Linked DNA regions of Homo sapiens: region 2 is linked to region 1. Evidence: fine-mapped expression QTL. A gene starts in region 1. The other region holds a variant in brackets. All regions are shown on one strand. Distances are from middle to middle.

The links. PIP is the estimated chance that this variant, and not a neighbour inherited with it, causes the effect.
Region 2: its variant is fine-mapped to the expression of ZNF77 in spinal cord (GTEx, PIP 0.93).

Annotation. Positions count from the first base shown.
Region 1 is chr19:2,942,256-2,947,624 of GRCh38, forward strand. ZNF77 (zinc finger protein 77) reads right to left here and starts at 2,716. Exons shown (of 4, transcript NM_021217.3): 1 at 2,583-2,716. The coding sequence starts at 2,585. RefSeq lists silencers at 2,412-2,491, 2,632-2,881 and an enhancer at 2,952-3,111.
Region 2 is chr19:2,062,110-2,067,478 of GRCh38, forward strand. No RefSeq gene overlaps it. Among named protein-coding and RNA genes, the nearest start is that of MKNK2, 14 kb to the left of the region's middle. RefSeq lists enhancers at 1-743, 1-67. The variant G/A (reference allele first, on the strand shown) is at 2,349.

The DNA of each region.
Region 1 (5,369 bases):
GAGACGGGGTTTCCCCATGTCAATCAGGGTGGTCTTGAATTCCTGACCTTGTGATCCGCCCACCTCAGCCACTCAAAGTGCTAGGATTACAGGTGTGAGCCACCGCGCCCGGCTCTTTTTTTTTTTTTTTTTTTTTCCAGACAGGGTCTAGCTCTGTTGCCCAGGCTGGAGTGGAGTGGTACAGCCTCAAACTCGTGGGCTCAAGCGATTCTCCCCCCTCAGCCTCTCAAGTGGCTGGGACCACAGGTGCGCATCCCCATGCCCGGCCTCATTATTTTACATTTACTAAAACCTGGGGCTGAAATAGGAACAATACCAATGCTGAGCTGGACACAGACGAGGCTGTTCGCAGCTGTCAGGTGACAATGTTGAACTGACTTCAGCTCTGTGCTCCTGGAAACCAGCAAAGGTGAAACCCCGTCCTGCTGTGCTCTGGAATTGGGACAGCCAGGACCCTCCCTTCCCATACGACTTAGATAAGATTCACGCAGATGACAAGGCCAGATTCAGACCCTCCGAAATCCCATTCTTTGTCATCAGAAATGATTCACTAGGTTAGGTGTGCCCAGGCTGGAGTGCAGTGGTGTGATCATGGCTCACTGCAACCTCTGCCTCCCGAGTTCAAGCAATTCTCCCTGCCTCAGCCTTCCAAGTAGCTGGGATTACAGGCACACACTACCACGCCCGGCTAATTTTTGTATTTTTTAGTAGAGATGGGATTTCACCATGTTGGCCAGGCTGGTCTTGAACTCCTGACCTCAGGTGATCCACCTGCCTCAGCCTCCCAAAGTGCTGGGAGTACAGGCATGAGCCACCGCGCCAGGCCTAGCCAACTCTTCAGATGCCTGCATACTTGACGGTCACAGAGCTCTCCCCCTGCAGCTGTCTCCCTGTGGCTACAGCATTAGTCCCGCAGCTCAATCATCAACTGTCCCCATGCCCCTGTTGCTTATACCCCCACCCCACTGCAATAGAACCTCAAGCCTCTGGCATTACTCTCCTGCCTCTAATCCAACTAACCCTTCTCCCTATTGCAACAGCCCCTTCTCCCCCTCCCCCAATACCTCGCAATAATCCTTTTTCATAAAAGTTTCCTTACTACGTTTGGGTTTACACAAGCTTGACCACATGTTCGCAGCCTCCCGTTTCTTCCCCAAACTTTACTCAGCCTTCTGTCCTCTCCGCAGGCCCCTGAACTTTGGCCCCCCCGAGTCTGAGCAAGCAGTAAGTGTGGAGTCCCCTGTCACCTCCCCTGAGCTAGCTGACCACGAGGAGGTACATTTACTGTCAACCTCCTTTCTGCTTGTCCCCTAAAACGTTCCTCCAAACCTTTTCTTGTGTATGAAAGTAAAGCCTTTTCCTGGTTGATTTTGAGACCTGGCAGGTTTCGGAGGCTGGGGCTTATCCCTATTTTTCTCTCTCCTTCTCTAGCCAGGATTTTTTTTTTTTTTTTTTTTTTTGGTTTTTGTTTTTGAGACGGAGTCTTTCTCTGTCGCCAGGCTGGAGTGCAGCGGCGCCATGTCGGCTCACTGCAAGCTCCACCTCCCAGGTTCACGCCATTCTCCTGTCTCAGCCTCCCTGGTAGCTGGGATTGCAGGCGCCCGCCACCACGCCGGGCTAATTTTTGTATTTTTAGTAGAGACGGGATTTCGCCATGTTGTCCAGGCTGGTCTGGAACTCCTGACCTCAGGTGATCCGCCCGCCTCGGCCTCCCAAAGTGCTGGGATTACAGGCGTGAGCCACCGCGCCCGGCCCAGGATTTTATTATTTGACAGGCTCCAGGACAGGGCACCACCTCCTCCTTGGCAGACCTTCCCAAACTGACCACCAAGCCCCTGACGGCTCCTGCCCTCTCCTCCCACTCTCCCCGATCCCCTGACTGCCTCTACTGTCCCCCAACACATCCCTCGAGCCCGACTCCCTTTACTGTCCCCCCAAACTTCCCTCAAGCCCCTGATCGCCTCTACTGCCCCCCTTAAAGTGCCCCTGAGCCCCTGACTGCTTCTGCTGTCCCCTCGAGCTGCCCCCAAACTCCCGACTGCAGCTACTGTCCCCCTAAACTGCCTTCGAGCCCCTGATCACCTGTCCCCCAAAACTGCCCCTTCAAACCCATGACCGCCTCTACGGCCCCCTCAAACTGTCCCCGAGTTCCTGACCGCTGCTATTGGCCCCCTAATCTGCCCTTGAGCCTGACTCCCTTCCACTGAACCCCCAAACTGCCGCCGAGCCCCTGACCGTGTCTGTTCCCGCAAACTGCCCCTGTGCCCCTTAAACCTCTACTGTCCACTTAAATTGCCTCAAGCCCCTGACCACCTCTGCTGTCCCCACAAGCTCTCCCCAAACTCCTGACCTGTACTGTCCCCAGAAACTACCCCTCGAGCCCCTGACCGCTTTTGCTGTCACCCCAGACTGCCCCCAGCCCTACCCCTCGGCCGCTGTGACCACGTCCCCGGGGCCCAGGCGCTCGTCGTGCGCCGCCCCGCGCGTCCCTCAGCTTTCTCCGGCTGCGAACTCGGGCGGAAGCCGGTTCCTGCCGCCCCACCTCGCCCTGGGCCCGGGCTCGGCTCCCGCCCGGCACTCACCATGTCCCGCCCGCTCCTGGGCTCTCCAGGGTTAGCGCCCCGCGGTCCAGCGACCGGCGCAGGTGAGCACGACAGGACACCTGAGCCGCTCGGGGTAGGCGGGGAAGCGCGCAAGGCAGAGGGGAACTCGGCTTACCGTCCTCGGGGTCTGATTGGACAGATCTCGGGAAGTGGAGACTCTGATTGGACAGTGCTGTCGACTCCGCACCCCTGATTGGAGAATTCTCCAGTCCGTCCCCCTAGCGCCCTTGATTGGGCAGGGCTCCGCTTCGGATTAACGTCTCTGATTGGACAGTTCCCTAGGCCCCGCCCCTGCCTGTCCTGATTGGATAATTCTCTCCTCAGTGACGGGCTCGTCGAGAACACGCGTGGCTGACCCTCTAGCCGGGCAGCCGCGGATCTGGGAGAACTCACTCCAGTCCAGGGAGGGCGCGGCGTCCTCCTCCCTGACTGCACGGCAACTCCAGACTCAGTTTCCCCTCGGAGCGGCCCCTCGTGCGGGGAGGAGAGGAAGGGCACGGAGTCCCATGGGGCGGAGTCCTGCGTGGGGGCGGGACCCGCGTGCGTGACGTCACCGTGCTGTCCCGCGTGGGCGCGGACGCCTGGGGTCCAGAGACCTGGAGATCTGGAGACCAGACGACGAGGCCCCAGGAGGCCGGACCCCACCAGGCGCTCCCTGTGTTCTTAAAACTCTCGGCCGGGCGCGGTGGTTCACGCCGGTAATCCCAGCACCGTGAGAGGCGGAGACCGGCGGATCATCAGAGGTCAGGAGTTCAAGTCCAGCCTGACCAAAATGGCGAAAACCACTTCTCTCCTAAAAATACAAAAATTAGCTGGGCACGGTGGCGGGCGCCTGTAATCCCAGCTACTCCGGAGGCTGAGGCAGGAGAATCGCTTGAACCCAGGAGGCGGAGATTGCAGTGAGCCAAGATCAGGACACTGCACTCCAGCCTGGGCAACAAGAGCGAAACTGAGTCTCAAAAAAAAAAAAAGCAGCCCTCCCACAAACAGAACCACGTAAGGTCATGAAGAGAGAGGTCTCACATTTATATGCTTAATAACGAAAAAGACTCTACAAAAACCACAGGCTTAAACAAAAAATACTTTTACAGGGACACTCAGACTGGTGTGACCCTTGTTACTGATCTTTGTAGACAAGGATAATTATTTCTGAAAAATGATGTAATCCTCATTTAAAATTTTTTTTTTCCTTTATAAACCTTTGTCCCAGTCTGGGCAACATGGCAAAACCCCATATATACAAAAAATACAAAAATTAGCTGGGAATAAAGGAGTGTGCGCCTATGGTCCCAACGACTTGATAGGCTGAAGCAGGAGGATCGCTCGAGCCCGTGGGGATTGAGGCTGCAGTGAGCTGTGATCTCACCATTGTACTCCAGCCTGGGCAACAGAGACCCCCGTCTCAAAAAAATGAAAACCAAAAACAACCTTTGTCTTCCTTTACCTCCCTGAATAAGCACATAGTTTGCTATGCCGCGCATATTCCCACTGCAATGAACTGTTACCACCGTTTTTAGACAGCCTGTTATTTAGGTCGACACAGTAAAAACATGAATTACGACAATTATGTTTGTATGTAAAATGGCAAGCGATATAGAGTTTATACTTCTACTCTGTCTCAAGCTGGAAAGTCTTTTCGGAGATGAGCAGTCGCGTTCCAGGCTTTAGGAATTGCGGCTCAACTGAATAAAAGTATTCAGAATTTTCACGTCGAGTTCAAATTTATTTAAACTTCTATGATTATTTTCTCAAATGAGTTAAAATAAGAATTCAATTACCATAGGAACAGTACAGCCTTTTACTTTAAGAAATTCTCTAGGGCCGGGCGCAGTGGCTCACGCCTATAATCCCAGCACTTTGGGAGGCTGAGGCAGGTGGATCACCTGAGGTCAAGAGTTCGAGACCAGCCTGGCCAACATGGCAAAACCCTTGTCTCTACTAAAAATATAAAAATTAGCCGGGCGTGGTGGCACATGCCTGTAATCCCAACTACTTGGGAGGCTGAGGCAGGAGAATCACTAGAGCCCGGGAGGCGGGGATTGCAGACCCAAGATCGCACCACTGCACTCCGCCTGGGTGACAGAGCGAGACTCCATCTCAAAACAAAAACAAACAAAAAAACGCCATTTGAACGACACGTTTTGTTTCCCCCCGCTTTATTATTTTTAAAAAGTACCATGGTGTACACATTGCATTACAATTGTTTTTGTGGCTCAATGAAAAAAATAAATCCTCCACCTCTCTTCATCTTAATAGGTGACTTCCTTACTCCTTACAGATGTAAGATGATGTAAGCTGATGTAACAAGGTCTCTCTAAATAGACAGTGGACTTGTTTCCAATCTTTTGCTACTCAAAGCTTGTCTTATGTTGCACCACCATGCCTGGCAGATTTTTGTATTTTTTGGTAGAGATGGGGTTTCACCATGCTGGCCAAGTTGGTCTGGAACTCCTGACCTCAAGTGATCCGCTTGCCTCAGCCTTCATCAATGGATATTAATGAAGCTTAGGATACTCACATTGTGTCAAAGATAAGAGGCAAGGAAACTACAAAGAAATTGGAAGTGATAGGAAACAGTGGAATAACTGTCAGAGAGGAAGCAGTGGGAACAAAAGACAGGAAAGAAAAACATGCCTATTATCAGAGTCCCTGAAGAAGTAAACAGTAGCACAGCTTTTCACCTTACATCATTAAGAAACACATAAATAGGCCGGGCGCGGTGGCTCACGCCTGTAATCCCAGCACTTTGGGATGCCAAGGTGGGCA
Region 2 (5,369 bases), 880 kb before region 1:
ACCAGGCCTGGATGACCAGGACTGAACCGCAGGCCTTGGCCCTGCACCAACACCTCTTCCTCTGTGGCCAGGAAACATTCCTTCCAAGGACCCCTACTGGAGGGGGTGGGAGGGTTGGTCCCCCAGGTCCTCCAGGTCCCGGGCGCTGTGCAACTGAGTGAAAGCACAGAGGCAGGTGGTCAGAATCTGACCCCCAGCGGCCACAGCCACAACCCCTCACCCCAGGCAGGCCTCACTCTCCACTGTAGCCCTGATCAATGAATCACAAGTGAGGGGCAGGAAACGAGATTGAAGGACCCACGGTGTAGACAGCAGGGGAGGTGACCCCACCAACCCACCCATCTGGCACCCTCTACGTCCCAAGTCTGGAGTGTCCCAGTGGCAGCCCTCAGGGCATGGATAGGCTGGAGGCCCGGCACCCCTGCCGAGGCTAGCCTAGAAGAATGGGGGTGGCCCCTTTGGCCATGGGAAGTGGTACATTCACAGATCGCGGGAATGACATGGGCATCTTTGGGGGCTGTGATTCAGCCGACCACAGAGTGTCTCAGGCTTCCCCCAAGGATCCCATCTTCACCATGTACCGCCCTCCTGCTGGGACCTTGGGGTCTCCTGTCTGCGGCCAGCCCAGGACCCTACGAGTTCCTCATTCCTGCTTCTCTCAGGAGAGACCTTTTAAAGGTCTGCATTTCTCTTTGACTTTTTTTTCCGCAATAGTTTTCTTCATTATAGAAATACACACGCAGCCTCACTCTGTGGCCCAGGCTGGAGTGGAGTGGCACGATCTCAGCTCACTGCAATCTCTCTCCGGGTTCAGGCAGTCTTGTGCTTCAGCTTCCCCAGTAGCTGCACGGAGACACCCAGCTAATTTGTTTTGGAGACGGAGACTCACTCTGTCGCCTGGGCTGGAGCGCAGAGGTGCAATCTCAGCTCACTGCAACCTCTGCCTCCTGGGTTCAAGTGATTCAACTGTCTCAGCCTCCTGAGTAGCTAGGATTACAGGTGTGCACCGCCACACCCAGCTAATTTTTGTATTTATTTGTTTTTATTTTTTATTTTTTTGAGACGGAGTCTCGCTCTTTCGCCCAGGCCGGAGTGCAGTGGCGCGATCTCGGCTCACTGCAAGCTCCGTCTCCCGGGTTCACGCCATTCTCCTCCCTCAGCCTCCCGAGTAGCTGGGATTACAGGCGTGAGTCACCGCGCCTGGCCTATTTATTTTTTGAGACGAAGTTTCACTCTTGTCACCCAGGCTGTAGTGCAATGGTGCGATCTTGGCTCACTGCAACCTCCACCTCCCGGGTTCAAGCAATTCTCTTGCCTCAGCCTCCCGAGTAACTGGGATTACAGGTGCCCGCCACCACGTCCAGCTAATTTTTGAATTTTTAGTAGAGACAGCGTTTCACCATGTGAAAGGCTGGTCTCGAACTCCTGATCTCAGGTGATCTGCTCATCTCGACCTCCCTAATTTTTGTATTTTTAGTAGAGACGGGGTTTCACCATGTTGGCCAGGCTGCTCTTGAACTCCTGATCTCAAGTGATCCACTGGTCTCAGCTTCCCAAAATGCTGAGATTACAGGTGTGAGCCACAGCACCCAGCTTTATTTTATTTTTTTTGAGACAGGGTCTTGCTCTGTTACCCAAGCTTAAGTTCAGTGGCCTGATCTCGGCTCACTGCACCCTCGACTTCCTGGGCTAACGCAATCCTCCCACCTCGGCCTCCTGAGTAGCTGGGATTACAGGAGAGTGCCTCCATCCCCATGTAATTTTTGTATTTTTTAGTAGTGACGGAGTTTAACCTTGTTGGTCAGGCTGGTCTTGAACTCCTGACCTCAGCTGATCTGCCCATCTCAGCCTCCCAAAGTACTGGGATCACAGGCCTGAGCCACTGTGCCGGCCGCTATTGTCGTTTCTGAGTGACATCATCTTGGCGATGGTTTTGATTTGCATTTCCCTGACAGCTTGTGTGTTCCGTCTTTTCTCACCTGGATGTTGACCAACACGTGTGTAAATGTTCAAGACCCACATATTTTAAAAAGTAAAAAGAAACAGATGACATTGGCTGGGCACAACATGGCCAACGTGGCCAAACCCCATCTCTACTAAAAATATAAATATTAGCCGGGTGTGGTGGCACGCGCCTGTAATCCCAACTACTCAGGAGGCTGAGGCAGGAGAATCACCTGAACCCAGGAGGCGGTGGTTGCAGTGAGCCGAGATCGCGCCACTGCACTCCAGCCTGGGTGATGGAGCGAGACTCCGTCTCAAAAATAAAATAAAATAATAAAAATAGAATCTTAAAAATTGCCCGTCCTTCTGAGGCCTCCTGCACAGTCATAGCGCCCTGTGGCCCC[G/A]CGGCCAAGCGGGAGGAGCAGGCAGGGGAGGTTGCTTCCAGGACGCCAGGACACTGGCTGCAGGTGGAGAGAAACAGGAGGGGCGGCTGTGGTGAGCCGGGGCTGGCATCCACCTCCTGGCGACGCGACCTACCAGGGACCTTGCCAAGGGGCCTCAGTCAGCCTTCTGTTGATGACACGCTGAGGTCAGGACCAGGGCCACAGCCTGTGTCTGACAAGAAGCAGTTTCCAGTTATTTGGTGAATCAGTGCTGGGGGCCTGGCCTGAGGGGTCCAGGGAGTCACACCTGACTCCATGTCCCTCTTTCCCACAAAGTAGGAGAGCGCCATGGGTCACCTGCCCGAAAAGGCAGGTCCATCCTCTGCCTGCAGTCAGAACTCAGGGGGATCCCTGAGGCCGGCAGCAGAGCCACGAGGACGCAGTGGCCTGGCGGCGGGTGGGGCAGCGCGGGAGCTGCTTTCCAGGCCAGACAGACGGAGCCGTTCTCCTGCCGGCCTTCCCGGGAGCAGGATCCCATCCAGTGATGCGTAGGCCTGTGGCGGGGACAAGGAGGGCGGGCAGCTGCTTTTGTTTCCCATCTGCTTCTCTGGCTTGGAAAGAAGGGCAGACAGCTCCAGAAATATCGAGGAACGTGGGCCACGCCTCCGGGGCGGCCACCAGGCGGTGGCACCAGAAGGTCAGCAGAGACAGAGCATAAACAGCAGCCACACAAGACACCCACGCGGGACACGGGCCGTGTGCGCACATGGGCACCTGATGCCTGGTGGCCGAGAGGACAGCACGGCCTGAACACCCGGCAGGAGGGGACGGATGGTCCATCCACACTGGAACATTATCCCATGACGAACCGGAGCCAGGCCACAGCGTGAACCTGGAGGACATCATGCTCAGTCACAGATGCCAAACTCAGAAGGCCACGCAGTGTGTGATCCCATTTCTATGAACTGTCCGGGACAGGCCCATCCAGAGACAGGGAGGGGATGTGTGGGTGTCGGGGAGTGACGGCTGATGGGGACAAGGTTTGTTCTTCTCGAGGTGATAGAATGCTGTAGAATTGGAGGTGGTAGTTGCACACTTTTCTGAATGTACTACATGCGACTGAATTGTACACCTTAAATGAGTGAATTGTATGGAATGTGAATTACAAATCAATGAAGATGCCCAGGCCGGGTGCGGTGGCTCACGCCTGTAATCCCAGCACTTTGGGAGGCCAAGGTGGGCAGATCACCTGAGGTCAGGAGTTCAAGACCAGCCTGGTCAACATGGCGAAACCCAGTCTCTACTAAAAATACAGAAATTAGCTGGGTGGTGGCTTACGCCTGTAATCCCAGCTACTCAGGAGGGTGAGGCAGGAGAATCGCTTGAACCCAGGAGGCAGAAGTTGCAGTGAGCTGAGATGGCGCCATTGCACTCCAGCCTGGGTGACAGAGAGAGGCTCTGTCTCAAAAAGTAAGTAGGCCGGGCGTGGTGGTTCACGCCTGTAATCCCAGCACCTTGGGAGGCCAAGGGACGCAGAACACAAGGTCAGGAGTTCAAGACCAGCCTGGCCAAGATAGTGAAACCCCGTCTCTACTAAAAATGCAAAAATTAGCTAGGCGTGGTGGTGGGCGCCTGTAGTCCCAGCTACTCGGGAGGCTGAGGTAGAGAAGTGCTTGAACCCGGGAGGCAGAGGTTGCAGTGAGCCAAGATCGTGCCATTGAACTCCAGCCTGCTCCGTCTCAATAAAAAAAATAAAAAATAAATAAGTACATACATAAAATGTTTATTAAATCATTTACCATGATTTTTAAATGTTAATTTGTATTTTATATAATGTATTTCAGCACATGAAGTTTTCTGACTAACGTATCTTTCCTGTACATTTTCCCTCTGGTCACAATGAGTGTACTTTGTCCCATATACTTTTTTTTTTTTTTTGAGACAGAGTCTCGCTCTGTCACCCAGGCTAGAGTGCAGTGGCACTATCTCAGCTCACTGCAAGCTCCGCCTCATGCCGGATTAATTTTTTTTTTTTTTTTGTATTTTTAGTAGAGACGGGGTTTCACTCTGTTAGCCAGGATGGTCTTGATCTCCTGACCTTGTGATCCGCCCGTCTCGGCCTCCCAAAATTCTGGGATTACAGGCGTGAGCCACCGTGCCCAGCCTGTCCCATATACATTTGGATTCACCTTGATCATTAAGACTGCAATTGCTGGCCAGGTGTGGAGGCTCATGTCTGTAATCCCAGCACTTTGGGAGTTGAGGCTGGTAGATCACAAGGTCAGGAGTTCAAAACCAGCCTGGCCAAGATGGTGAAACCCCGTCTCTACTAAAAATACAAAAAAATTAGCTGGATGTGGTGGCGGGTGCTGGTAGTCCCAGCTACTTGGGAGGCTGAGGCAGAAGAATCGCTTGAACACAGGACGCAGAGGTTGCAGTGAGCCAAGATTGTTTCACTGCACTCCAGCCTGGGTGAAAGAGTGAGACTCTGTCTCAAAAAAAAAAAAAAAGAAAAAAAAAAAAGAAAGGCCCGGCGCAGTGGCTCACACCTGTAATCCCAGCACTTTGGGAGGCCGAGGCAGGTGGATCACAAGGCCAGGTGTTCGAGACCAGCCTGACCAACATGGTGAAACCCTGTCTCTACTAAAAATACAAAAATTAGCCGGGGGTGGTGGCAGGTGCCTGTAATCCCAGCTACTCAGGAGGCTGAGGCAGGAGAATTGCTTGAACCTGGGAGGCGGAGGTTGCAGTGAGCCGAGATGACGCCACTGCACTCCAGCCTGGGCGACAGAGCGAGACTCTGTCTCAAAAAAAAAAAAAAAAAAAAAAAAGGATTGCAATTGCTTTTTCCTCCTGGTTTGCTTTATTTGATATAATTATGCTGGCTGGGAACAATGGCTCACATCTACAATCCCAGCACTTTGGGAGGCCAAAGAGGGAGGATCGCTTGAGGCCAGGAGTCCAAGATCAGCCTGAGCAATGTAGGGAGACTTCATCTCTACAAAAAAGAAACACAATCAGCTAGGCATGGAGGCACATGCC